Homo sapiens: one gene and its partners. The protein of the gene in region 1 purifies or fractionates together with the protein of each later gene. This does not show direct contact. Each region holds a gene or a part of one and is shown in the gene's direction. Other genes may lie near its edges. The genes, in order: SSX2, SESTD1, CUL7, AMD1, SMARCA5, GSTA1 and KIF3A.

What was found.
Region 2: the proteins of SSX2 (region 1) and SESTD1 purify together in Homo sapiens (affinity purification with mass spectrometry, with the first as the bait; one large-scale study listed by BioGRID). This does not show direct contact.
Region 3: the proteins of SSX2 (region 1) and CUL7 purify together in Homo sapiens (affinity purification with mass spectrometry, with the first as the bait; one large-scale study listed by BioGRID). This does not show direct contact.
Region 4: the proteins of SSX2 (region 1) and AMD1 purify together in Homo sapiens (affinity purification with mass spectrometry, with the first as the bait; one large-scale study listed by BioGRID). This does not show direct contact.
Region 5: the proteins of SSX2 (region 1) and SMARCA5 purify together in Homo sapiens (affinity purification with mass spectrometry, with the first as the bait; one study listed by BioGRID). This does not show direct contact.
Region 6: the proteins of SSX2 (region 1) and GSTA1 purify together in Homo sapiens (affinity purification with mass spectrometry, with the first as the bait; one large-scale study listed by BioGRID). This does not show direct contact.
Region 7: the proteins of SSX2 (region 1) and KIF3A purify together in Homo sapiens (affinity purification with mass spectrometry, with the first as the bait; one large-scale study listed by BioGRID). This does not show direct contact.

The regions. Positions count from the first base shown.
Region 1 is NC_000023.11:52,697,179-52,700,678, reverse strand, and holds part of SSX2 (protein SSX2), read left to right. Parts: intron 1-100; coding exon 101-236; intron 237-1,747; coding exon of another isoform or gene 1,748-1,893; intron 1,894-2,590; coding exon 2,591-2,691; 3' UTR 2,692-2,695; intron 2,696-3,160; 3' UTR 3,161-3,500.
Region 2 is NC_000002.12:179,125,333-179,128,832, reverse strand, and holds part of SESTD1 (SEC14 domain and spectrin repeat-containing protein 1), read left to right. Parts: intron 1-3,195; exon of another isoform or gene 3,196-3,297; intron 3,298-3,500. UniProt on the Homo sapiens protein: May act as the primary docking protein directing membrane turnover and assembly of the transient receptor potential channels TRPC4 and TRPC5.
Region 3 is NC_000006.12:43,047,352-43,050,851, reverse strand, and holds part of CUL7 (cullin-7), read left to right. Parts: intron 1-453; coding exon 454-592; intron 593-692; coding exon 693-889; coding exon of another isoform or gene 890-916; intron 917-1,189; coding exon 1,190-1,445; intron 1,446-2,282; coding exon 2,283-2,520; intron 2,521-2,598; coding exon 2,599-2,704; intron 2,705-2,862; exon of another isoform or gene 2,863-2,875; coding exon of another isoform or gene 2,876-2,905; intron 2,906-3,500. UniProt on the Homo sapiens protein: Core component of the 3M and Cul7-RING(FBXW8) complexes, which mediate the ubiquitination and subsequent proteasomal degradation of target proteins. Core component of the 3M complex, a complex required to regulate microtubule dynamics and genome integrity.
Region 4 is NC_000006.12:110,884,785-110,888,284, forward strand, and holds part of AMD1 (S-adenosylmethionine decarboxylase proenzyme), read left to right. Parts: intron 1-2,720; coding exon 2,721-2,807; intron 2,808-3,500.
Region 5 is NC_000004.12:143,548,202-143,551,701, forward strand, and holds part of SMARCA5 (SWI/SNF-related matrix-associated actin-dependent regulator of chromatin subfamily A member 5), read left to right. Parts: intron 1-1,795; coding exon 1,796-1,903; intron 1,904-3,500. UniProt on the Homo sapiens protein: ATPase that possesses intrinsic ATP-dependent nucleosome-remodeling activity.
Region 6 is NC_000006.12:52,790,871-52,793,816, reverse strand, and holds the end of GSTA1 (glutathione S-transferase A1), read left to right. Parts: intron 1-829; coding exon 830-961; coding exon of another isoform or gene 962-1,093; exon of another isoform or gene 1,094-1,769; intron 1,770-1,836; coding exon 1,837-1,959; 3' UTR 1,960-2,446; downstream 2,447-2,946. UniProt on the Homo sapiens protein: Glutathione S-transferase that catalyzes the nucleophilic attack of the sulfur atom of glutathione on the electrophilic groups of a wide range of exogenous and endogenous compounds.
Region 7 is NC_000005.10:132,692,547-132,696,046, reverse strand, and holds the end of KIF3A (kinesin-like protein KIF3A), read left to right. Parts: 3' UTR 1-3,416; downstream 3,417-3,500. UniProt on the Homo sapiens protein: Microtubule-based anterograde translocator for membranous organelles. Plus end-directed microtubule sliding activity in vitro. Plays a role in primary cilia formation. Plays a role in centriole cohesion and subdistal appendage organization and function.

The DNA.
Region 1 (3,500 bases):
AACATTGAATAAGCTAATGCATGTGAAGACCCTTTGTAAGCTCAAAAGCACTATAGATATGTCACTGATACTATTTATCTGTGATCTTCACATTATAAAGATCATGCCCAAGAAGCCAGCAGAGGAAGGAAATGATTCGGAGGAAGTGCCAGAAGCATCTGGCCCACAAAATGATGGGAAAGAGCTGTGCCCCCCGGGAAAACCAACTACCTCTGAGAAGATTCACGAGAGATCTGGTAAGAGGAAGCAATTCAGGAACAATCCCTCTGGCTTCCCTGGCGATGTTCAGGTATATGGACTGGGTGTGTGGCATGGATCCCAGATAACCCTGGGTCCAGACTGGGCTGAGGAGCTCGCCCAGCTCCAGATGAGATGTTAGACATGACTTCCAGAGATAGACTTGATTTGTCACCCATAGAAAAAACCATGTGACTTGGGGCAAGTCTTTCAGATTTTCTCAGCTCCAGATTCCTAGTCCGTAAGATGGAAATAAGGAATCATAGTTCATAAATTGTTTGGAGACATTAAATTTAATCTAGAAGGCCTGATGACATGAAAGGTGCTCAAGCAATTCTATCTGTGATTACCTGGGATCATTACCTGATTAAGACTCAGCTCAATGCCATGCCTGTTACCCAATACAGGTGTACTTCAGAGATACTGCAGGTTCAGTTCCAGACCACTGCAATAAAGTGAGTCACACACGTTGTTTTTTGGTTTGGCAGCGCATAAAAACATTATGTTTATACTATAGTGTAGTCTACTAAGTGTGCGATAGCGTTGTGTCTAAAAATGTATATACCTTAATTTAAAAATAATTCTTTGTTAAAAATGCTAACAATCTTCTGAGCCTTCAGTGAGTCACACTCTTTTTGCTGGTGGAGGGTCTTGCCTCGGTGTTGATGGCTGCTGGCTGATCAAGGTGGTGGTTGCTGAAGGGTGGAGTGGCTGTGGCAGTTTCTTAAAAGAACACAACAGTGAAATTTGCCACATCGATTAGCTCTCCGTTTCATGAAGGATTTCTCTGTAGTATGTGATGCTATTGGATAGCATTTTACCCACAGTAGAACTTCTTTCAAAGTTGAAATCAATCCTCTCTAGCTATGAAAGTCCTAGAAGGCATCTCCTTCCAATAGAAGGCTATTTTATCTACATTGAAAATCTGTTGTTTCATGTAGCCACCTTCAACAGTGATCTTAGCTAGATCTTCTGGATAACTTGCTGCAGCTTCTCCATCAGGGTTTGCTGCTTCACCTTGCACTTTTATGTTATGGAAACGGCTTCATTCCTTAAACCTCATGAACCAACCTCTGCTAGCTTCACATGTTTCTCCTGCAGCTTCTTCACCTCTCTCAGCATTCATGGACTTGAAGAGAGTTCTGGTCTTGCTCTGAATTAGACTTTGGCTTAAGGGAATGTTGTGACTGGTTTCGTCTTCTATCCTGACCACTCAGACTTCCTCTATTTGAGCAGTAAGGCAGTTTTGCTTTCTTATTCGTGTGTTCACTGGAGTATTAGTATTATTATTTCCTTCAAGAACTTTTCCTTTGCATTCACAGCTTGGCTGTTTGGCGCAATAGGCCTAGCTTTCAGCCTGTCTTGGCTTTCAGCATGCTTCCTCACTAAGCTTAGCCATTTCTAGCTTGTGATTTAGAGTGAGAGACATGCGACTCTTCCTTTCATTTGAACACTTAGCGGCCATTGTAAGGTTGTTAATAATCCTCATTTCAGTATTGCTGTGTCTCAGGAAATAGGGAGGCCCAAGAAAAGGAAGAGAGACGCGGAACAGCTCATCGGTGGAGCAGTCAGAACACACACAACATTGGTCGATTCAGTTTGTCAACTTCTATGGGTGCAGTTCATGGTACCCCCAAAACAATTACACACAACAGGGTGATTATAGTCAATAATAACTTAATTGTACATTAAAAAAAAAACTAAAAGTGTAAATGGATTGTTTGTAACACAAGGATAAATGCTTGAGGATGGATACCCTATTTTCCATGATGTGATTATTACCCATTGCATGCCTGTATCAAAGCATCTCATGTACCCCATAAGAATATACACCTGCTGCGTACCCACAAAATAAAGAACAAAAATTATTTTAAAACACTAAAAAACAATAAAATCAATTGCAGTAATAATATCAAAGCTCACCGATCACAGATCACTATAGCAGATATAATAATAATGGAAAAGTGTAAAATTGGTGAGAATTAAAAAAAAAAATTGCAGCATCTGCGAAGCAGTATGAACATGAGGTGCAACAAAACAAGGTACGCCTGTGTGGCCTTAACAAATACGTGCTGGATGAAAGGAGGTATGGGGGAATGTTCCCGTAAGTGAAGAGGTTGGGAATCTAAGCCTGAGAAGGGAAGGAGCCAGAAGCTAAAACTTTAATTGGCATTTGGCCTATGTTGGTGTGGATCTAAGGTCTCAGCCTCTCTAAGCCAGAGAATGTGAAAAACTGGATGAAGAAGGCCCATGGGCACTTGGGAGGAAGCAGGCATCTCCTTTTTTTGAGTAAACAGAGCCTAACACTCTCCAACCTACCCAACCCTCACTTTCCAACTATTCTCCATCACAGGACCCAAAAGGGGGGAACATGCCTGGACCCACAGACTGCGTGAGAGAAAACAGCTGGTGATTTATGAAGAGATCAGCGACCCTGAGGAAGATGACGAGTAACTCCGTAAGAGAACCTTCCACTCATCCCCCACATCCCTGCAGACGTGCTATTCTGTTATGATACTGGTATCCCATCTGTCACTTGCTCCCCAAATCATTCCCTTCTTACAATTTTCTACTGTACAGCATTGAGGCTGAACGATGAGAGATTTCCCATGCTCTTTCTACTCCCTGCCCTGTATATATCCGGGGATCCTCCCTACCCAGGATGCTGTGGGGTCCCAAACCCCAAGTAAGCCCTGATATGCGGGCCACACCTTTCTCTAGCCTAGGAATTGATAACCCAGGCGAGGAAGTCACTGTGGCATGAACAGATGGTTCACTTCGAGGAACCGTGGAAGGCGTGTGCAGGTCCTGAGATAGGGCAGAATCGGAGTGTGCAGGGTCTGCAGGTCAGGAGGAGTTGAGATTGCGTTGCCACGTGGTGGGAACTCACTGCCACTTATTTCCTTCTCTCTTCTTGCCTCAGCCTCAGGGATACGACACATGCCCATGATGAGAAGCAGAACGTGGTGACCTTTCACGAACATGGGCATGGCTGCGGACCCCTCGTCATCAGGTGCATAGCAAGTGAAAGCAAGTGTTCACAACAGTGAAAAGTTGAGCGTCATTTTTCTTAGTGTGCCAAGAGTTCGATGTTAGCGTTTACGTTGTATTTTCTTACACTGTGTCATTCTGTTAGATACTAACATTTTCATTGATGAGCAAGACATACTTAATGCATATTTTGGTTTGTGTATCCATGCACCTACCTTAGAAAACAAGTATTGTCGGTTACCTCTGCATGGAACAGCATTACCCTCCTCTCT
Region 2 (3,500 bases), on another chromosome or scaffold:
GAGACAGACCGGAGAATGGCTGTAAGTGAACAAAATACACCTAAGGTTCTAGGCAGTCTACATTCTACTGGGTTTTTTTTTTTTTCTTTTCTTTTTTTTTTTTTTGAGACAGTGTCTAGCTCTCTCGCCAGCCTGGAGTGCAGTGGTGCTATCTCAGCTCACTGCAACCTCTGCCTCCCAGGTTCAAGCGATTCTCCTGCCTCAGCCTCCAGAGTAGCTGGGATTACAGGCATGCGCCACCACACCCAGCTAATTTTTGTATTTTTAGTAGAGACGGGGCTTCACCCTGTTGGCCAGGATAGTCTCCATCTCCTGACCTCGTGATCTGCCCATCTTGACCTCCCAAAGTGCTGGGATTACAGGCATGAGCCACTGTGCCCGGCCGTACATACCCGTTTTTTAGGAAGAAACATTTGGATGACTTTTTTTAAATACATGCAAATGTATTAGCCAGATTTTTTTGCTCTCCACATCCCAGAGAGACTATTTCTTTATGGCAACCTCAATCGGTAATATCAATGTCTCTAATTTCAGGTGTTAATTTCTTGAGACATACTAGTCCTCACAATGTATTTACATCCCTGGTCAGGTTGCTGGAGCCTATATTTTACAAATTCAAACCAGGAAATAATTAGCTCCACAGTGGTGATTCCTAAACCTTAACAGGCATAAGAGTCATCAGAGATGCTTGTTGAAATATATATTCCAGGGCCAACTCCAGATACTGATTTAGTAAGTCAGGAGTGAAGCTTAGACATTTTTAATAAACACCCCAAGTGGTCTAATGCTGGTAGCTCTGAAAAGTGCTATTCTAGGACTCTAATCCTTCACTGCTTTTCTCAGAATCGTTGCTATTACGTCTTCAAAGAGTTAAGCCTATTTATTTAGAGCATTTAATGATATGTAAGTACTATGAATAAGGTATTGAAATCCTTTTATATTTTAGAGCATGACAGTGATAATTTTCTGAGGTAATATTTTCTACTTTAAAATAGTCTCTGTTAACCATTATAAACTATGTAGTTTAAAAATATTCTATGCTTGTTATTGAGTTAAATCCAAACAATAACTGATAAACAAGGTAAGACAGATATTATCATCACCATTGGATATAGGAGGATTTCTCATCCTCAGCAGACTCTTGAGACTTTGGGCCAGATAAATGTCTGTCGTAAGGGCTGTCCTGCACATGGTAGGGTATTTTGCAGCATCACTGGCTTCTACTTACTGCATGCAGTGGCATCCCCATTCCTCAGTTGTGATAACCCAAAATGTTTCCAGACACTGCCACATGTTCCCTGAGTGACAAAATCACCCTCTGTTACCTACTTAATGTAATGTCAGTAAATCTACAGTGATTAATGTTTTATACCTTCAATCAATGAATGTTAATTGAGCACATACTATGTGTCATGTGTTGTTCTAGGCTTTTGCCATATAATACTGTCTTACTATATGGAATTTACATTCAAGTTGGGGAGCGGAAAGCAATATAGGTATAGATTTTAGGAAAGGCCTCTCTGAGGAGATGACATTTAATCAGAAACCTTGAAATGATGTCGAGAAGTAATCCAAACAAAGGGCAATTCAGATAGAGGACACAGCAGTAGAAACACCCCAGCACAGGAAGATGATTGAGGAACAGCAAGAATGTTGGTGTGGCTAGAGTACAGGGAGCAAAGGAGAGTCACAGAAAATAAAGTTTTAGAGGAAGTCAGGAGCCAAAACATGTAATGTCTTTTAGCCCATGAAAAGAAACTTGAAATTTATTTTAAATGTTATGTGAAGTTATTTGAAACTTTTGGACAGATAATTAATTTATGTTTTAAGCAAATCACCGGCTATTGTGTGGAAAATAGGGAACAGAGACTAGCAATGAAAATGGAAGGCGGGGGGCTGATAGATGGAGGCATTAGAAGTAATGAGAATTGATAGAAGTTGATGAGGTTGAGCCAGCAAGACTTGCTGATGAAAGAATCAGGCTTTTGGCCTTAGCAGCTACTAAGGCAGGGAGGACTGCGAGAGGAACAGGTTGGGAGGATAGTGAATCAGTGTCTTTGGTGGCAGGTTAGATTTTAGATATCTAGTAGTCATCCAGATGAAGGTGGCTAGTGGGCAGTTGGGTATCAGTATCTGGGGTTCATGGGAGGGGTCAGTGTTGATGATTAATTTGGTAATTCTTAGCCTATAGATGTATTTAGAGCCTATATTAACTTGGTAGTTCTTAGCCTATAGATATATTTAAAGCCTATATTAATTTGGTAATTCTTAGCCTATAGATCTATTTAAAGGCATGGGACTAGGTGAAGTCATCCAAACCCAGTGAGAAGAAAAGAGAGCCTCTGGAAAACTGAGCCTTGGGTCAACCTAAACTTTAAGTGCAAAAAGAGGGAGGAGAGCCAGCAAAGAAGGCTAAAAGGAGCTGTTGTGTCTCAGAAAACAAGAGAAAAGGCCATTTGAAGGAGGAGGAAGTGCTTACTTGTGCCAAATGCAGCTGTTTGTTGAGAGGTTCAATAAAATAAAGACTGAGAATTGACCATTGGATTTGTGGCAAGATGGAATTTTTTGGTGAATTTGACAATTGGTTTCAGAAGGGTGGGAAAACAAAATCCTGATTGGAATGGATTAAAAAAAGAATGAAAAATGAGAAAAGAGTAAATACAGAGAACTCCTTTAAGAAAAAAATTTTTTTTAACTGAGGTTTAATTTCAGCGTAGTAAAATGCACAAATCTTAAATGTGTATTTTATTGTTTAATAAATTACAGCTTATTTATATGCTGGTGGAAATAATCCAGTTGAGACAGAAGAACTGATGGGAGACAGAGAAGATAACTGTGAGAGCAAAGCTTTGTGTAGGCAACAGAGATAGGCTGTAATGCACAAGTGGAGTGGTTGGCCTTAGAAGAAGAGACAGGCGGCTGATTATTACAGCTCTGAGGGCAGAGCATAGGGCTGTAGAAGAACGGAGGGTTGGGGATTTGTTGGTGGGAAGATGAAAGAGTTTTCCGATTACTTCCCAGTGAATTAAGATCTTTGGCTGAGAATGAAGAAGTGAAAAGGGAATTGGAGACTGATAGTGAAAAAAACATAAATGATCATGAGAATGAGAAAGTGAATTTACTAGAGAAACATAAAAGGATTGCCAAAGACTCATTTGAGATTATTTAGTCATAACTTTAAAAAGAGATCTGTCAATCCTTTTGTAGTTTATAAGCATGATGATGGGTGCTCACACTCATCTGAGATGTGTCTCCCTCTAAGCCTTGTAACAACATCAGCACGTTACCCTTCTGATGTGAGGGAAAAGAGAGAGAGCGCTATCCACCTAGTTGTTTTTAGTCTACCCATGTTCGGCTACTCTGGTACAGGCACACATTAGGCAGAGAAAACAGATCTCAGGTTTCAACAGGTCATTCTGATGGAAGGAAAGAAAGCCAGGCAGGGGCATGGGTTATATGCTGGGAGGTGGTTATAGCCTTTGATCAAGGATGGAAGTGAG
Region 3 (3,500 bases), on another chromosome or scaffold:
TTGGAATGGTGAAAAGAGTCAGTAGTTGAGAGGGGGGCCATTCTGAGAGCTGGGAAAATCTGGGTTTAGGAGGCTGTGAAGTCAAGAAGACTCACACCTGGGAAGAAACTGATATAGCCAGACTCCTCCAAAGGTCAGGGTCAGGGAGATGGAGTGGTGGAGGCCAGAAGGAAGTGTGGGGGCATAAGCCATGAAAGACAGGGTGAGAGGAGAGACAGGCCCATCCCCCAAAGGAGAAGGCATCCTGTGTGTGTGTGTGTGTGTGTGTGTGTGTGTGTGTGTGTGTGTGTGTGTGTGTGTGTATTCTCCATATGCTGCTGTTTTGTTATGTGGAGGTTTTTCTAAAACCTGGCCAGGTGGTCACCCTGAGGGCTATAGTCCTCAGTACTGGGCCACAGCCAGTCATTTGTGAGTCCTCCCTTCCCCTTCCCTCTTTCTTTCCCTATGCTCCAGGTATTTTGGGAGTCAACAGGCCGCACCTATTGGGTGCACTGGCACATGCTGGAGATCTTGGGCTTTGAGGAAGACATTGAGGACATGGTTGAGGCTGATGAGTACCAAGGGGCAGTGGCCAGTAGAGTCCTGGGTAGAGGTGAGCTCAGGGAGGAAGCAAGGGTCAGCTCTGAGCAGAGGAATGGTGGTCCTGCTGAGTTGCTAGTGACATCCTTGTGCCCCTTGGCCCATTTTCACAGCCCTGCCTGCCTGGCGCTGGAGGCCCATGACAGAACTCTATGCTGTGCCTTATGTGCTGCCTGAGGATGAGGACACTGAGGAGTGTGAACACCTGACCCTGGCTGAGTGGTGGGAACTCCTCTTCTTCATCAAGAAGCTGGATGGACCTGACCATCAGGAGGTTCTCCAGATCCTCCAGGAGAACCTAGATGGGGAGGTAGAGCCAGCCTGGAGACACTCAGAGGTTGGAGGGCTCTATTGCAAGGGCTGGACTGTATAGAGCATTTGGAAGGCTCAGGATGAAAAGTGGAGGTCAGAGAGTGGAAGGGGCTGCAGAGGAGGGGTCTGGAATTTTCAGAGGTGGGAGGGTGAGCTGTTTGGGAGGAGCCAGCTGCCAGCTGTGAGAGGATCAGGATGGAGGGTATGTGTGCAGAGAGACCCCCACCCCTACCAAGTGCTCCCTGGGGCCTCTGGGTCGGCAGGGCTGTCTGCAGTGAGAGCTTCTCCTTGATGGCAGATTCTGGATGATGAGATCCTAGCTGAACTGGCCGTGCCCATAGAATTGGCCCAGGACTTGCTGCTGACTCTGCCACAGCGACTCAATGACAGTGCCCTCAGGGACCTGATCAACTGCCATGTCTACAAGAAGTATGGGCCTGAAGCCCTAGCAGGGAACCAAGCCTACCCATCCCTTCTAGAAGCCCAAGAAGATGTCCTCCTGCTAGACGCGCAGGCCCAGGCTAAGGACTCAGAAGATGCAGCCAAAGTGGAAGGTGGGTGCCAGACACAGCAGCTGAGCTGACACACCTTCAGGGCAGTAGCACAGGAGAGATGTCTGTGCTGATTTTTATGCAATCCTTTCTGGAAGTGATGCCACCTTAGAAGCTGCAACTTAGAGAGAAGCAACAAACGGAGAAGCAGGCATTGTGTTCCCTCAAAGAATGAAGGAGGATGTAAAGTTAGAAAATTGCAAGAGAATTTTGAAGACTTAAAAAAGCCCCCACATTTAGCTTTTTCTCTTGTACAGAAACATATTCCATGCTTTGAAATAAAGGGAAGTGCTCTCCTGTTTTCAGATGAAGCTACTTTGCTATTTTAAGAATATAAAGGCCGGGCATGGTGGCTCACGCCTGTAATCCCAGCACTTTGGAAGGCCAAGGCAGGTGGATCATGAGGTCAGGAGATCGAGATCATCCTGCCTAACATGGTGAAACCCCGTCTCTACTAAAACTACAAAAAAAAAAAAATTAGCCGGGCGTGGTGGTGGGCACCTGTAGTCCCAGCTACTGGAGGCTGAGGCAGGAGAATGGCGTGAACCCAGGAGGCGGAGGTTGCAGTGAGCCGAGATCATGCCACTGCACTCCAGCCTGGGTGACAGAGCGAGACTCCGTCTCAAAGAAAAAAAAAAAAAAAGAATATAAAATTTGTCATGAAGCTGTCTTACAATGACATTCAGAGATTAGATCCCCAAACCTAACTTTTAGGGGGATTAAAAAATTTAAAACATTTTTTAGGAGAAATTAGAGAAAAAGATTGAGAGTTATGAATCTATTTCTGAGCCTTCACATTACTAACAATGGCCAACTCCTGTGACTGTCCCCTTCCTGTAGCAAAAGAACCCCCATCTCAGAGTCCCAACACTCCCCTGCAGCGTCTGGTGGAGGGTTATGGTCCAGCTGGGAAAATCCTCCTGGATCTAGAGCAAGCCCTCAGCTCAGAGGGGACCCAGGAGAACAAGGTCAAGCCACTCCTGCTGCAGCTGCAGCGGCAGCCGCAGCCCTTCCTGGCACTGATGCAGAGCCTGGACACTCCGGAGACTAACAGGACCCTGCACCTGACTGTGCTGAGGTGAGAGCATGGTGACAGGTGGGATCTCTGAGGGCAAAGGGGGTCCATGAGGCTGGCTACACATTTCTCTGCCCCCAGAATCCTGAAGCAGCTGGTGGACTTCCCCGAGGCACTGCTGCTCCCCTGGCACGAGGCCGTGGATGCCTGCATGGCCTGCCTGCGGTCCCCAAACACTGATCGAGAGGTACCCCTGCCCTGCTCTGGGGAGAGGCTGGGGGAGAGGATAAAGGCAGCCACTGGCAAGGCACACCTGCTGGGCAAGGCTCTGGAGGGCGTGATAGAGCCTTTGAGCTCTTGGTTTGAGTTTTGCTTTTAAAATTGAATTTTATTTTTTTTAAATAGGTAATACATTCACATGGTTCACAAATCAAAACGCTCTAACAAGGTATACACTGAGAATTCTTGCTCTCACCCAAATCTCTGTTCCCCCAGGGTCCCCCACACACCCCTTACTGGTAACTACTTGTATTAATTTATGTATCTTTCCCGTGTTCCCTTATGCAAATATAAGCAAACCCAAATGTGTGATCTTGCCACTCTCTTTTTTACACAAAAGGATATGGAGATATTATTACATAAAACATTAAGAGCTTCAATAGCTCCATTTTTGGCTGGGCCTGTGGGAGAAAGGGGGATGAAGGAGGCAGAGCGCCCATCACATACCAGAGTCCCCTGCAAGAGCTACAGAGAAGTCCTGGGCACAGAAGGCTTCAGAAGGGCTCAGAGAACTAGGGTCATGGTGACAGTAGGTATTTGCAGTGTGGCTATATTTTTGGCTGTTACCTAGAATTTACTTTCTAAGGCAGGCTCATTGGGTATAATACACACACAAACCCAGTCCCTGTCAGCCCCTTCCCAGCCATCCAGGTGTCTGTGCCTGAACATCTCAAAACACAGCCCTACAACTGGTTTTTGGGACAGTAGGGCCTGGATGAAAGAACCCAGGGATGCTCTCTGCCGTTTTTGCCAACATAATCAGC
Region 4 (3,500 bases), on another chromosome or scaffold:
TGTTTAAAAGTCTTAATAGAAATGGTGAATATAACTGAGAAAGGGAGGGTGGGATTTGTTAGTGCGTCCAGTGGGTAAAAAGGAGTATGTGCAAGAATAAGTTATAGTGGGAAGTCAGTAGGTGATGACTTAAGCAGGTAGCATTATTGATGGACCTGAATTAGATAAGCTCTTTAAAAATCTGAAATTGTAATGTTTCTAATACTTAAATCATAGTGGATATTTTTATTTACCTTCATATTCAGGAATGGGAGTCTTAATAGTAGATAATTTTTGCAAGGATTTTGTAAATTTATCTTAGTCAAGTGAAGCAGGATTTCATTCCCACGAGTAGTTTGTTTATTTTTTTGAGATGGAGATTCACTTTTGTCGCCCAGGCTGGAATGCAGTGGTGCGATCTCGGCTCACTGCAATCTCCATCTCCCGCATTCAGTCTCCTGCCTCAGCCTCCAGAGTAGCTGGGATTATAGACGCCCACCACTACGCCCAGCTAATTTTTTGTGTTTTTAGTAGAGATGGGGTTTCACCATGTTGGCCAGGCTGGTCTCAAACTCCTGACCTCAGGTGATCCATGCGCCTCGGCTGCCCAAAGTGGTGGGATTACAGGCATGAGCCATTGTGCCTGGCCAAGTTTTTGTTGTTTTTGTTTTGTTTGTTTGTTTTTGAGACGGAGTCTCCCTCTGTTGCCCAGGCTGGTATGCAGTGGCAAGATCTCAGCTCACTGCAACCTCCACCTTCAGGGTTCAAGTGATTCTTCTGTCTCAGCCTCCCGAGTAGCTGGGATTACAGGCGTGTGCCACCACACAAGCCAGGGGTAATTTCAAGGGTTGTCACAGTATATATCCCACATATGTATTCTTTCCATATATGAACAAATTGTTAGCACCCTTTTTAAAGAACCTTAAAACTTTTTAGTAGCTCTTTTAAAAAAGTTGCTTAGTCATGTTATAGTCTAATACAGGAACTCAGCTCTGTAATCATTAGCAAGCCTTTCACATTAAAGATTTTTGGATGGGTATTGGTACGCAGATGGGTCAGTAACAGTTTCTTGTAGCAAAATGGTGAGACAGGCACAAAATTCTACCAGGCATGTTTGGTGTTGTGTTTGCTTTTTAATACAAACGAATAAAAACATTTTGCTGTTGGATTTCGCTCAAAAGGTCTTATCTGGTTAACAAAAGATTTGCCGGCTGGGCACGGTGGCTCATGCCTGTAATCCCAGCACTTTGGGAGGCCGAGGCAGGCGGATCACCTGAGGTCAGTAGTATGAGACCAGCCTGGCCAACATGGTGAAACCCTGTCGCCACTAAAAATACAAAAATTAGCCAGGTGTGGTGGCACGTGCCTGTAATCCCAGCTGCTTGGGAGGTGGAGGTTGCAGTGAGCAGAGATCATGCCACTGGACTCCAGCCTGGGTGACAGAGCAAGACTCAGTCTCAAAAAAAAAAAAAAAAAGATTTGCCATTTTTATGAGTGTAGAGCAATGGCCTGTCAGATATCATAAGGCTTAAAAATTTTTCTTCTTTTTTTAAAGACCAGGGTATTACTCTATCGCCCAGCCTGGTCTCAAACTCCTGAGCTTAAGCCATCCCAATCCCAAAGTGCTAGGATTACAGGCGATTCTCCTGCCTCAGCCTCAGCCTCCTGAGTAGCTGAGATTATAAGCACCTGCCACCACGCCCGGCTAATTTTTGTATTTTTAGTAGAAACAGGGTTTCACCATGTTGGTCAGGCTGGTCTCAAACTCCTGACCTCAAGTGATCCACCGCCTTGGCCTCCCAAAGTGCTGGGATTACAGGCGTGAACCACCACGCCTGGCCTAAAAAATATTTCTGGCAAACAGCTGGGCATGGTGGCACATGCCTGTGGTTCTAGCTACCTGAGAGACTAAGGCAAGAGAATTGCTTGAGCCTGGGAGGTCAAGGCCGAAGTGAGCTGTGATTGCACCACTGCACTTCAACCTGGGCGACAGAGTGAGACCCTGTCTCAAAAAATAATATCTGTCATGTTAAGCTGTTCCATGGAATTACATTGTCTTTTTATAATGGGCACACTAATGAAAGAATGAACACTTTCCTAATTCTATTCTCAGGCAAATTAAGACTAGTTTCTTCATGTCCATATGACCTTCATTGCTATGGTTGCTTGTACTGCACATTTCCTGTTAAACGGGCTTTCTCATTGCATTTGGAGAGCTGCGTAGTATTCCCAAAATCTTCTAGGTATGCTTGTAATTGGCAGTCATTCCAGTTTTTTGTGAGTGCTATAAGAGTAACATCACTCACTGTGTCCCGACAGACAGGCTTTTAAATTTCTATGCCAATTAGATTGGTAAAATTATGCTCTTCTTTTTTTTTAAGTGTTTCTTAAGGTTAAAAATCTGCACATTTTATAGACAAAGTATCCCATTGAATTTCTGTAATCATTGATTAGTTAATGGTTTACCTTGGTTTATGGACCTTTGAACATTTTTTTGCCTATTTTTCTTTAAGTAATTTGTAAATACATAGTATAATGACCAATTTTTGTTTCATATATAGCATAATATACCTATCATTTATCTGGGTGTGTCAATATAGATTATTTTGAAAGAAACTAAAAGTTGGTGTACAATATTAATTAAAAATGTGGTCTTCATGAGAAAAAGTGTGAGCTTTGTAATTTTTATGAGTAGGTGGGTACTATTGTGGATTAATCGTAACTTTTTTGTTAAATGATAGATCTGAGTGGGACATACTTTTGAAGGATGTGCAATGTTCAATCATAAGTGTGACAAAAACTGACAAGCAGGAAGCTTATGTACTCAGGTAAGTCCTGTAAAACAAGTGTTAGGTAGCTAATTTCAGTCCTAATCATAATGTGAAACAGTTAAGTTCCTCTCAGTTGTAGTTCTGGGGGTTTTTTTGTTTTGTTTTGTTTTTTTGAGACGGAGTTTCAGTCACCCAGGCTGGAGTGCAATGGCGCCATGTCAGCTCACTGCAACCTCCGCCTCCTTGGTTCAAGCAATTCTCCGGCCTAAGCCTCCTGAGGAGCTGGGATTACAGGCACCTTCCATCATGCCCGGCTAATTTTTGTATTTTTAGTAGAGACGGGGTTTCACCATGTTGGCCAGGCTGGTCTTGAACTCCTGACCTCAGGTGATCCATCCACCTCGGCCTCCCAAAGTGCTGGGATTATACACGTGAGCCACCGCGCCCAGCCTTTTTTTTACATTATTCTTAAAAATATGGTATAAAAGGAAACATTTAGTGTAACGTGGATGTTTCTAGGACATAGGTTTTGAAGCCTCACCGGACAGTTCAAGGTGTTTGCCGTCTTTTCCTCCCAATTGGTAAAGAAGGACCTCTTAATTAGAAGTTCAGGCAAAGGGAAAGTTAGCTTCTCTATACAAATACAGTTGTCTAATTGGTATATAAAAGCTCATCACCTTTTTTGTAGTTGCAGAGTTAATTTATTCCATAAATACTTTTAATGCTTATAGTATATATTGTGATGGGCCT
Region 5 (3,500 bases), on another chromosome or scaffold:
ATTCTTTAAGGTGACTTTAAAAAAATCTATGAAGTAGACTTTTGTTACAATATTGTTAGTATCATAAAACCTAATACCAGGGATAGCTTACAAGTTTATTGGTCCTATCCTTTAGTATCTTACGTCTTTAAATATCACTATATGATAAGACTAGCTTTTCAAGTTCTAAGTGGGAGGAAGTATCAGTTTCAACTTCTGAGTGTTACGACTTTTTGGTTTTTCAAATGAACATATTTCTATAAAGAAAAATGGTCCTTGCATTCAAGCATCTGCACATCAGAATCAGCATTCTGATTTATTTAATATAAATCATCCAGAGTCTGGATTATTTTAAGATGGCTTATTATAGTGAAACACTACTTTTGCACTGATTTAGTGCTAGGTTTTGTTTTTATTCCCAATATCTGACTAACAGTTTCTGACCAAATAGCCCCATTTCTAATAACCTAAAATTTGAATTCAGAAAAGTTTAACTTTGATGGATTGCTCCTTTTCTTCCTTATTTCACCACCATTGAACTTTGAGCTTCAACTTGTTTTCTGCCAGATGAGGATAATGCTAATAAGTTCTTTAGTCTTAAGTTTGGGATATTCTGGGATAAGCAAAGTTTAAACATCTTTGTGTTTGTTTATAGTAAGATTTCTCTGTATATTTAAAGTAAAATGTCACTTTGTAAGACAGTGGATAGTAAGCAGTATTTTCATGTTTGACCACTGAAAATTTTTTTTCACTAGACATCACTGTTTGTGATACCCAAGTTTGGGAAATGTACTAAACTTAAATACATGAAGATACTTTGAAGATAAAACACTGTATAAATATATAATTAGAGAAAAGATCCAGTTGCTGAAAGCTTATTTCTTCTTAAGTGGGAACAATTTATAGAGTTAATAAAGAATAATTTTATAGTGATTGTAACAAGACAGTGCCATGTTAATTTAACTAGTACAGTACCGTAATTTAAAACTGTGTTACTTCTTAACATGTTCCATGTTAAGATGCACAAAAAATGATAATGTATTCTTCTATCTCTATATACTATTTCTAAGTCTTGTGTGGTGTATTCTATACAGTAGTATTTTAAAATTATTTTACTGTAGTTGTGTGTGTAGTAGTATCACTTACTATAAGAAAAAAATAATTTTGCTCTATAAGAAAGGGGGCTGCTACCCAGCAGCCGTCCGTGCAGATGGACTTCTGTTTCTTTCAGGGTTAACTGCTACTTCTATGTTATACTTTAAATCTTTTCTGGAGGCTGTATGTCCAGTTTGCCAGAGAGAGATGAGGTAGAACTCATCGTAGACTTCCATGGCTGGTTTTCCAAAATTGGGAAAGGTGCCATGTGATTGATTGACTACCATAATTCTAGTGATACTTTGAAGGGAAAGATTATACACACCTGTTAAAGTTCTTGTTGTTTTTGACCCTCACATATGTGCACTATTAATCTTTTTAAGTTTTGGATATAAGTAGCACAGTAGTTCTCAGACATACACACTAAGTAGCAGTATTGCATATGTTCATTTTTATTGCTTTAATTCCTAAGTGAAGGAAGAATTTTTGAAGAATACACAGTAGTTTGGCTTTAAAGATTGGAGTAAAAACATTATTTACAAATATCTTGCCTTTAATCTTCATAGCATGAATTGTATATGAAAATCAGTTGTTTTTTTTTTAAATCAGGGGTGTATTAGTGGTTTTATATATTATCCTATTAAAACATACCTTGTTTTAAAATTGAAATCATGAAACTTGTGGATGGAAAGTGCGTGTACCATGTTTGTTTATAATTTAGGAGCTCCAGAGGAGATGTAATACCTTAATTACTTTGATTGAAAGAGAAAACATGGAACTAGAAGAAAAGGAGAAGGCAGAGAAAAAGAAACGAGGACCAAAGCCTTCAGTAAGTATTCATGAATATGTAAATATGTGGATTATGTAAATTTCCCCTTTCTAAGTATTTAACACTGCTTGGCTGTCATTGATGTGTTAGTCCCTGTTGTGCACCCCTCCATTGCCTTTACTTTTTTTTTTTTTTTTTTTTCCTTAAGGGAGAACCCAAGCTCATAATTTGAGATTCTTCCACTTTCAAATTTAGGTAGTGGTATAATTTTTAATTTTTAGTTGTTATGAGTAAGTATGTATTTATAGGTTACATGAGATACTTTGATACAGGCATGCAATAAGTAATAAGGACATCAGGGTAAATGGGGTATTTATCACCTCCAGCATTTATCCCTGTTACAAACAGTTTAACTCTTAGTTATTTTAAAATGTATAATTAAATTATTTATTGCGGTAGTCACTGTGTTGGGCTATCAAATACTGGGTCTTAGTCTCTCTTTGTATTTATTTGTATCCATTAGCCAGCCCCACTTTCCCCCACCCCCACTGCCTTTCTCAGCCTCTGGTATCCATCCTTCTCTCTGTCTCCATGAGTTTAATTGTAGTTTTTAGCTCCCACAAATAAGTGAGAACATGCCAAGTTTGTCTTTCTGTGTCTGGCTTATTTCACTTAATAAACTCCAGTTCCATCCATGTTGCTGCAAATTACAGGGTCTCATTGCTTATGGTTGAATAGTATTCTATTGTGTATACATACCATGTTTTCTTTATCCATTTATCTGTTGATGGACACTTAGGTTGCTTCCAAATCATGGCTACTGTGAATAGTGCTGCAGTAAACATGGGAGTGCACATATCTCTTTGATATACTGACTTTCTTTTGGGTGTAAACCTAGGAGTAGGGTAACTCTTATCTGTAGTTTTTTGAGGAACCTTCAAACTGCTTCCACAGTGATTGTACTAATTTGCGTTCCCACCAAAAGTGTATGAGGGTTTCCTTTTCTCCACATTCTTGTCAGGATTTGTTATTGCCTGACTTTTGGATAAAAGCCATTTTATCTGGGATGAGATGTTATCTCATTGTAGTTTTGATTGCATTTCTCTGATGATCAGTGATACTGAACAGCTTTTAATATGCTTGTTTGCCATTTGTATGTCTTCCTTTGAGAATCATCTGTTCAGATCTTTTGCCTATTTTTAAATCGGACTGTTAGGATTTTTTTCAGTAGAGTTGTTTGAGCTCTTACATATTCTGGTTATTTATTAATCCTTTGACAAATGGGTAGTTTGCAAATATTTTCTTCCATTCTGTGGGATGTCTCTTCACTTTGCTGTTTCCTCTGCTGTGCAGAAGCTTTTTAACTTAATGTGATCCCATTTGTCCATTTTTGCTTTGGTTGCCTGTGGGGTATTATTCAAGAAATCTTTGCCCAGTCCAGTGTTCTGGAGAGTTTTCCCAATGTTTTCTTGTAGTTTCACAGTTTGAGGACTTAAAGTCTTTAATACATTTTGATTTGATTTTTTTATATAGTTAGGGATACAGGTCAAGTTTCATTCTTCTGTGTATGGATATCCAATTTTCCCATTACCATTTATTGAAGAGACTGTCCTTTCTCCAGTGTATGTTCTTGGTAGCTTTGTCAAAAATGAGTTCC
Region 6 (2,946 bases), on another chromosome or scaffold:
TCTATGGAACCCCATGGACTTTGACTGAACAGGGGCATGATGAAAGCGATCCATCAGAAAATATTCTGGCACCATATGCAGGAAGATAGGAGACCAATTGCCCAACCAGAGAATACTGTAGCGTTTCAGGGATGGGTATTTTTTAAAAGGAGAGTGATTGTGGGATGCAGAGGAAGATTTTTTAAAATGGATTTTAGAGTAAGTTGCAGACATCAGTGCAGTTCACCCGTAAACGCTTCAGCTTGCAGATTATAACATAGTGCCAGTTGGGAGTGAGAGTCAATGCTGTAAGAAAGATGAATTCAGGTTCACCCAGGTTTCCTACAGATCCCAGGGAGATAGAGCAGGGAATGAGGAGAGCAGACAAAGAGAAATGAGGACTCTGAAATAGTCTCCTCCTGGGGAAGAGTGTTGTCATGAAGGTGGAGTCACTGCCCAAGGGAGATTGGAGAGGGAGAGAGCAGAATGTAGAGCCACATCCTGAATGTGAGGGCTCCACGCTGTAGGGCCTGGGGCAGACAGAACACATGGAGGCAGGTGCTAAGCCCCTGGCCCATGTGGAAGAAGCAAGCTGCGTGGGTGGTGTAGATGCCACAGTGATGTAGAATGAGAAGAGAAAATGGGAGCCTGAGCTACAACTGAGGAGTGAGTAGAGTTACAGTTCTTACTCTCTCATTCATTCAGATAATGTGGAGAAAGCTCTGGATTTCTGCACCCATGCAGTAAGGCAACAGAGGTGGGGAAAGTCAGGGTGGAGAGGCTCCGAAAGAAGCAGGGGTCCTAGCCTGGGTGTGCATGTGTTCCTGATCTGATTCCTCCCATTCTCCAGGTCTTAAAGAGCCATGGACAAGACTACCTTGTTGGCAACAAGCTGAGCCGGGCTGACATTCATCTGGTGGAACTTCTCTACTACGTCGAGGAGCTTGACTCCAGTCTTATCTCCAGCTTCCCTCTGCTGAAGGTGACCCATTTCACAGCCCAGAGAGGCAGCCCCACATCTCCCATCTTGGGATCTTGTATCTGGGCCCTGCGACTGACCAAGTTTTGCCCCAGTCTTCTCCAGGCCTTCAGTGCCCCAAGGTCTCCAAAATGAGCTTCCAGGCTCCAATTTTGAGGAATGAAAACACTTTTGTTATGGAAAGGAAATCTGTGCTGCATGCTACCCCACAAAGAGTATTTTGCCCTTTATTATGGAAAGAACCCAGGGCCCAGCATCTCTCCCCATCCCTCTATTTCAATGTGGTTTCTGTTCCTGAGTTCTCTGTGATGTCCTTTATCCCATATGTGCCCACAATGAGCCGGTCTGAGCAGAGCCCTTTCCATCTGGTTTCCTCCCTGGGCTCCGGCTCCTGCTGTCTGACATTGTGTTCCTCTCTGCACAGCTCTCCAGAACACTGGCCCCCCACACTGTATCTCTCACTGAGAAAAGGTGGTCCCATGGTTTGTCTTTAATATTTTCTATAACTATTCCCTTCCCAAATAATTTCCCCATGTTTTCACTTCTGCTTAGAGACTCATCTGTGTTGATATCTCACAGGCACATTATTTTTTCTTGTCTTATACAAGAGTCACTAATCTATAGGATTAGTGTGTAAGGAGAAAGATAGAGATGACTGAACTGATTAAAACTTCAAGACATCTTTGGGGAAAATAAAGTGAGCTACATGTCCTTCCCCTTATCTTCATTTCTCACTGGGTGTCTGTTTCTGCCTCCATGCTTGTGCTGATGGAGCAGACTCACTTGGTCTTTGCAGGAGGGGCTCAGATTCCCTGGGTCATGTTAATGGTGGTGTCAGCCCTTGGCTTCACTCTGAGGCTGTGCTTTATGAATTACAGGCCCTGAAAACCAGAATCAGCAACCTGCCCACAGTGAAGAAGTTTCTACAGCCTGGCAGCCCAAGGAAGCCTCCCATGGATGAGAAATCTTTAGAAGAAGCAAGGAAGATTTTCAGGTTTTAATAACGCAGTCATGGAGGCCAAGAACTTGCAATACCAATGTTCTAAAGTTTTGCAACAATAAAGTACTTTACCTAAGTGTTGATTGTGCCTGTTGTGAAGCTAATGAACTCTTTCAAATTATATGCTAATTAAATAATACAACTCCTATTCGCTGACTTAGTTAAAATTGATTTGTTTTCATTAGGATCTGATGTGAATTCAGATTTCCAATCTTCTCCTAGCCAACCATTTTCCTGGAATTAAAAATTCAGTAAAAAAGGAAACTATAGATTATGTGGTTTGTTTGACTTTTCCAAGAATTGTCCCGTAACATACAATTTGTCATACAATCTATTAAAATGTCAATGTAGAAATGCACTTCTGACATTTTCAGGTATGCACAGGAGAAGAGTTACCATCCTGGATAATGGCATAAAGACATTTTCTTCTTTTCCTGGACAGTCATTTTATTTCTGATAAAAGCGTTCTTTCTTATGCATTTGCAAAACAATGATTCTGTCTGCTGTGGATTCCTCAGTTTTCTAGGAGGTGAGGAAATACTGAAGAGCAAACAGACCCACCCTCTGCTCTCAGGCCACCCTATTGTCCCTTACAGTGTGTGTGCTCCTGGCTCATCCTCACTCTGCTCCTTAAGGCTCTGTGGGGTCCCAGGCATAAGCCTTCTCTCAGTTCCTTCAGTGCCACTCAGGCCTGGCTGCCACGATACAGATGGTATATGTGAAATACAAATAACTATATGCAAAATCATTTTTCCCTGGTGTGTCACTGTGCCAGAATGCTTAGATTAGGAGTGCTTTCTAGCTCCACCCCCATACTGGTCCCATAGTGCTAATCTCTCCCAGGACACCTGGGCTTCTGCAATTTGCACTCTCCTCCTCTTAGAGGGAGCTTCCCCACAGTTGGCAGAGGTGGTTGAGGGAGCAGACAAACACACAGGCTTCCTACCTGCAGCTTCACTTTGCTCTAGTCTCTTCTCCACTTACAACC
Region 7 (3,500 bases), on another chromosome or scaffold:
TGCGAGTATACATGTTTTTTAACAAGTTGAAAATGTTTCATCTGAACCTTTCCTAACTTTTTTTTGCCAGTTTGAGTTCAAATCAAATACACCTTAAGTTCTGGTTTCATGTTCTCTTGAAACATTGAATTGTACGTAAATATAAAGGATCTACTGTTGCGGAAAATTAAGAAGCTAAATACTGCTCAGTTATCTTTGCCTGCGTGTATATTTTTAAAAATTCACTCTGAAGTGTTATGGATGCTTTTCTTTGAGTTCTAAATTTTGGTGGGAATTACTTTATGTCTCCCAGTTAAGAAGAGTCTCCATTTTCCAGAAAATACAGCTAAGCAAGAAAAATATCTTTTAAATACTTTGCCTTTAAAACACTTTTTTATTTTGTTTTTCTATTTTAAAAATAAAATATTATTTTCTGAATTTCTTCTATTGGGTAATCCAGTTAGACCATATTCCTCTACAAATAAAAACTATGTTGATTTCATAGTAAAGTAAGTTGTAATAGAGATAATTATTTTTTTCTGTTGTTAGCTGCTTATGAAACTTTTATTGTATTTTTTTAAAGTTATGCTACTCCTGGCCGGGCATGGTGGCTCACGCCTGTAATCCCAGCACTTTGGGAGGCCGAGGCACGTGGATCACTTGATGTCAGGAGTTCGAGACCAGCCTGGCTAACATGGTGAAACCCTGTCTCCAGTACAAATACAATAATTAGCTGGGTGTGGTGGCGCACACCTGTAATCCCAGCTACTTGGGAGGCTGAGGCAGGAGAATCACTTGAACCTGGGAGGCGGAGGTTGCAGTGAGCTGAGATGGCATCACTGCACTCCAGCCTGGGTGACAGGGTGACACTCCACCTCAAAAAATAAAAATAAAATAAAAATAAAGTTATGCTACTCCTAAACCACTTAATATATGTTTTGTGGTTTTCAAAATTATGTAATCAGCCCTGAAACACATTGGTTGAAAATATTTTGAGACTTTATAAGTTAGTATTTATTAAATTAATATTATTTTAATAAGTTTTGTTAAATCCTAGTTTAAATGACAAAGCTGTGTATAGAGTAGGGGTGAGTGAAGGTGGAGTACTCTTGAGGTGGCGATAAAAATGTACCCATAAATTTAAAGTCCATTCTGTAATTGGAATACTGAATGTCCTGTGTGTGGTGAACATTTTCTAGGTGATTAGAATTGCATTTCACTGGCTGCATTTGTTTGTGGTATGTAAGATAGCTAGAAATTTATTACTTAACTCTGTGGGGCATTGTTTAGATACTGTGAAGAGTTGAGGTAAATATGTGTCTTGTAAAAGCTTTGTGTGATCAGAATATTTTGGTAATTATAAAATGTTTTTGATGATACACATTTAACTCTGTTAGTAATTACTCTAAAGAAATCTTAATTTTACCAGTTTAAAAAAAACGCTTCTTTTTAAAAGTTCATGTTTCTAACCTTTAACAATTCAGTTAATAGGAAAGGAGTAACTTTTAAATCAAGCTTTAAAACATGGAAATTTAAGCCAGTATGTTAGATATTTTTTCTATCCCACCCTACCATGATAATAAAAATAAATCTATAAAAAGTCAAAATAAAAAGCCGATCTATAAAAAGTCAATTGAGAAGTTCTAAAAGCAGGCTACTATAGCAGGGGTGTTTGTTTTTTGTTTGGAGACGGAGTCTGGCTCTATTACCTAGGCTGGAGTGCAGTGGGACAATCTCGGCTCACTGTAACCTCTGTCTCTTCAGCCTCCTGAGTTGCTGGAACTACAGCTGTATGCCATCATGCTCGGCTAATTTTTGTATTTTTTTGTAGAGATGGGGTTTTGCCATGTTGCCCGGGCCTGTCTTGAACTCCTAGAGCTTAAGTGATCCACCCGCCTCAGGCTCCCGAAGTGCTGGGATTACAGGCATGATTATAGGCCTGAGCCACCACACCCCGCCTACTATAGCAGTTTTTTAAAAAAAGCATTATGTTAAAACTGATTATACCAGATGGACATTAAATATCCATCTCAGAAATACCAAAATTTGATACATAAGCCTGGCCTGAATATCTTTTTTTTTTTTTTGAGACGGAGTCTTACTCTGTCGCCCAGGCTGGAGTGCAGTGGCGCGATCTCGGCTCACTGCAACCTCTGCCTCCTGGGTTCAAGGGATTCTCCTGCCTCAGCCTCTTGAGTAGCTGGGATTACAGGTTTGCGCCACCACACCCAGCTAATTTTTGTATTTTTTTTTTAGTAGAGACCGGGTTTCACCATGTTGGCCAGGCTGGTCTCACCTGACTTTGTGATCCGCCCGCCTCAGCCTCCCAAAGTGCTGGGATTACAGGTGTGAGCCACCACGCCTGGCCTCAAGCCTGGTCTGAATATCTATATGCAAATATGGGACACTGACTTCAGAGCTATTCATTTAGCTCCAGTCATAGCAATTCTGTAGTTTCCTCACATTTACTGTGTCTTTGTCCACAAATGAAATATGTTGTAAGGTCAGTGTTAATTTCGTGAGACGATATAGATGAACACACTTGCTCATTTTTTGAAATAAATATGCAGATTTAAAATGAGTGGCACATATATATAAATAGGTTATTGAATGGGTATTCTCTTTTCCCTTTAATTTAAAAAGTGATATTTATTTATTAAAAGGAGCATTGGTAGAATTATTGGTTTATAGTATCTTCTTTAATAATCCTTACAATTACATATACTAATAGGATGTTAAAATTATCATCGTGTTTCCTATTTGTGTTTAGATTCTTATAAAGCATGAGATGAGTAATCAAGGGAAGGGTCGCATCTCCATGTTTGCCCCATGAATAGAATCCATTTGACAAGCCATTTCATTTCCTTTCTGGAGAAAGGGAGTTGTTTTTTTTTTCTTTTTACAGCAAAAATTTAAGGTTTTATTGGGGGAGGGGGTGGTGCTACTTCCTCTGTAACATGTTTTTAAAACTATGATTATGGTTTTTGGTTGTTTTTTGTTTTGTTTGTTTCCTTTTAGTCTGTTTTTAATATCCTTCCCCTTAACTCTTAAGGAAAGTCTTCTTTCCTACAGGGCTGTGAATTAAGGAATGGGTAGCGTTTACATTTAAGTACACCAATGTCTGCCCAATTTCCTAATGTATACATTTGTTTTATTTTAAATTATTTTTTGTTCTTAAAAATACTAGAAGAAAACATAGATGTTTCTAGTGCCTTTGAACTTATACTGTAGTCTGACTAATTTAATGAATAACTTCAGTAGCATTACTATAATACTGTATGCTGGCCAAAATTACAAATTACAGTTTGTTGCATCAGTTTCAAAAGCCATGCTTTCATTGTATTTTATGTATAAATTGTATTTGTTCAAGTTGTATATATTGGTATTGTATGTATACATGCAGCATGGTTAAATAAGAATAAAAATCTTTTACCTAATGCCTGTAGTAGTGGTCTGCTGCTTTTCTCAACTATCTTTGTGGTTACTTCCACCCTGATATTAATGAGCAGGTTCTTTGTGCT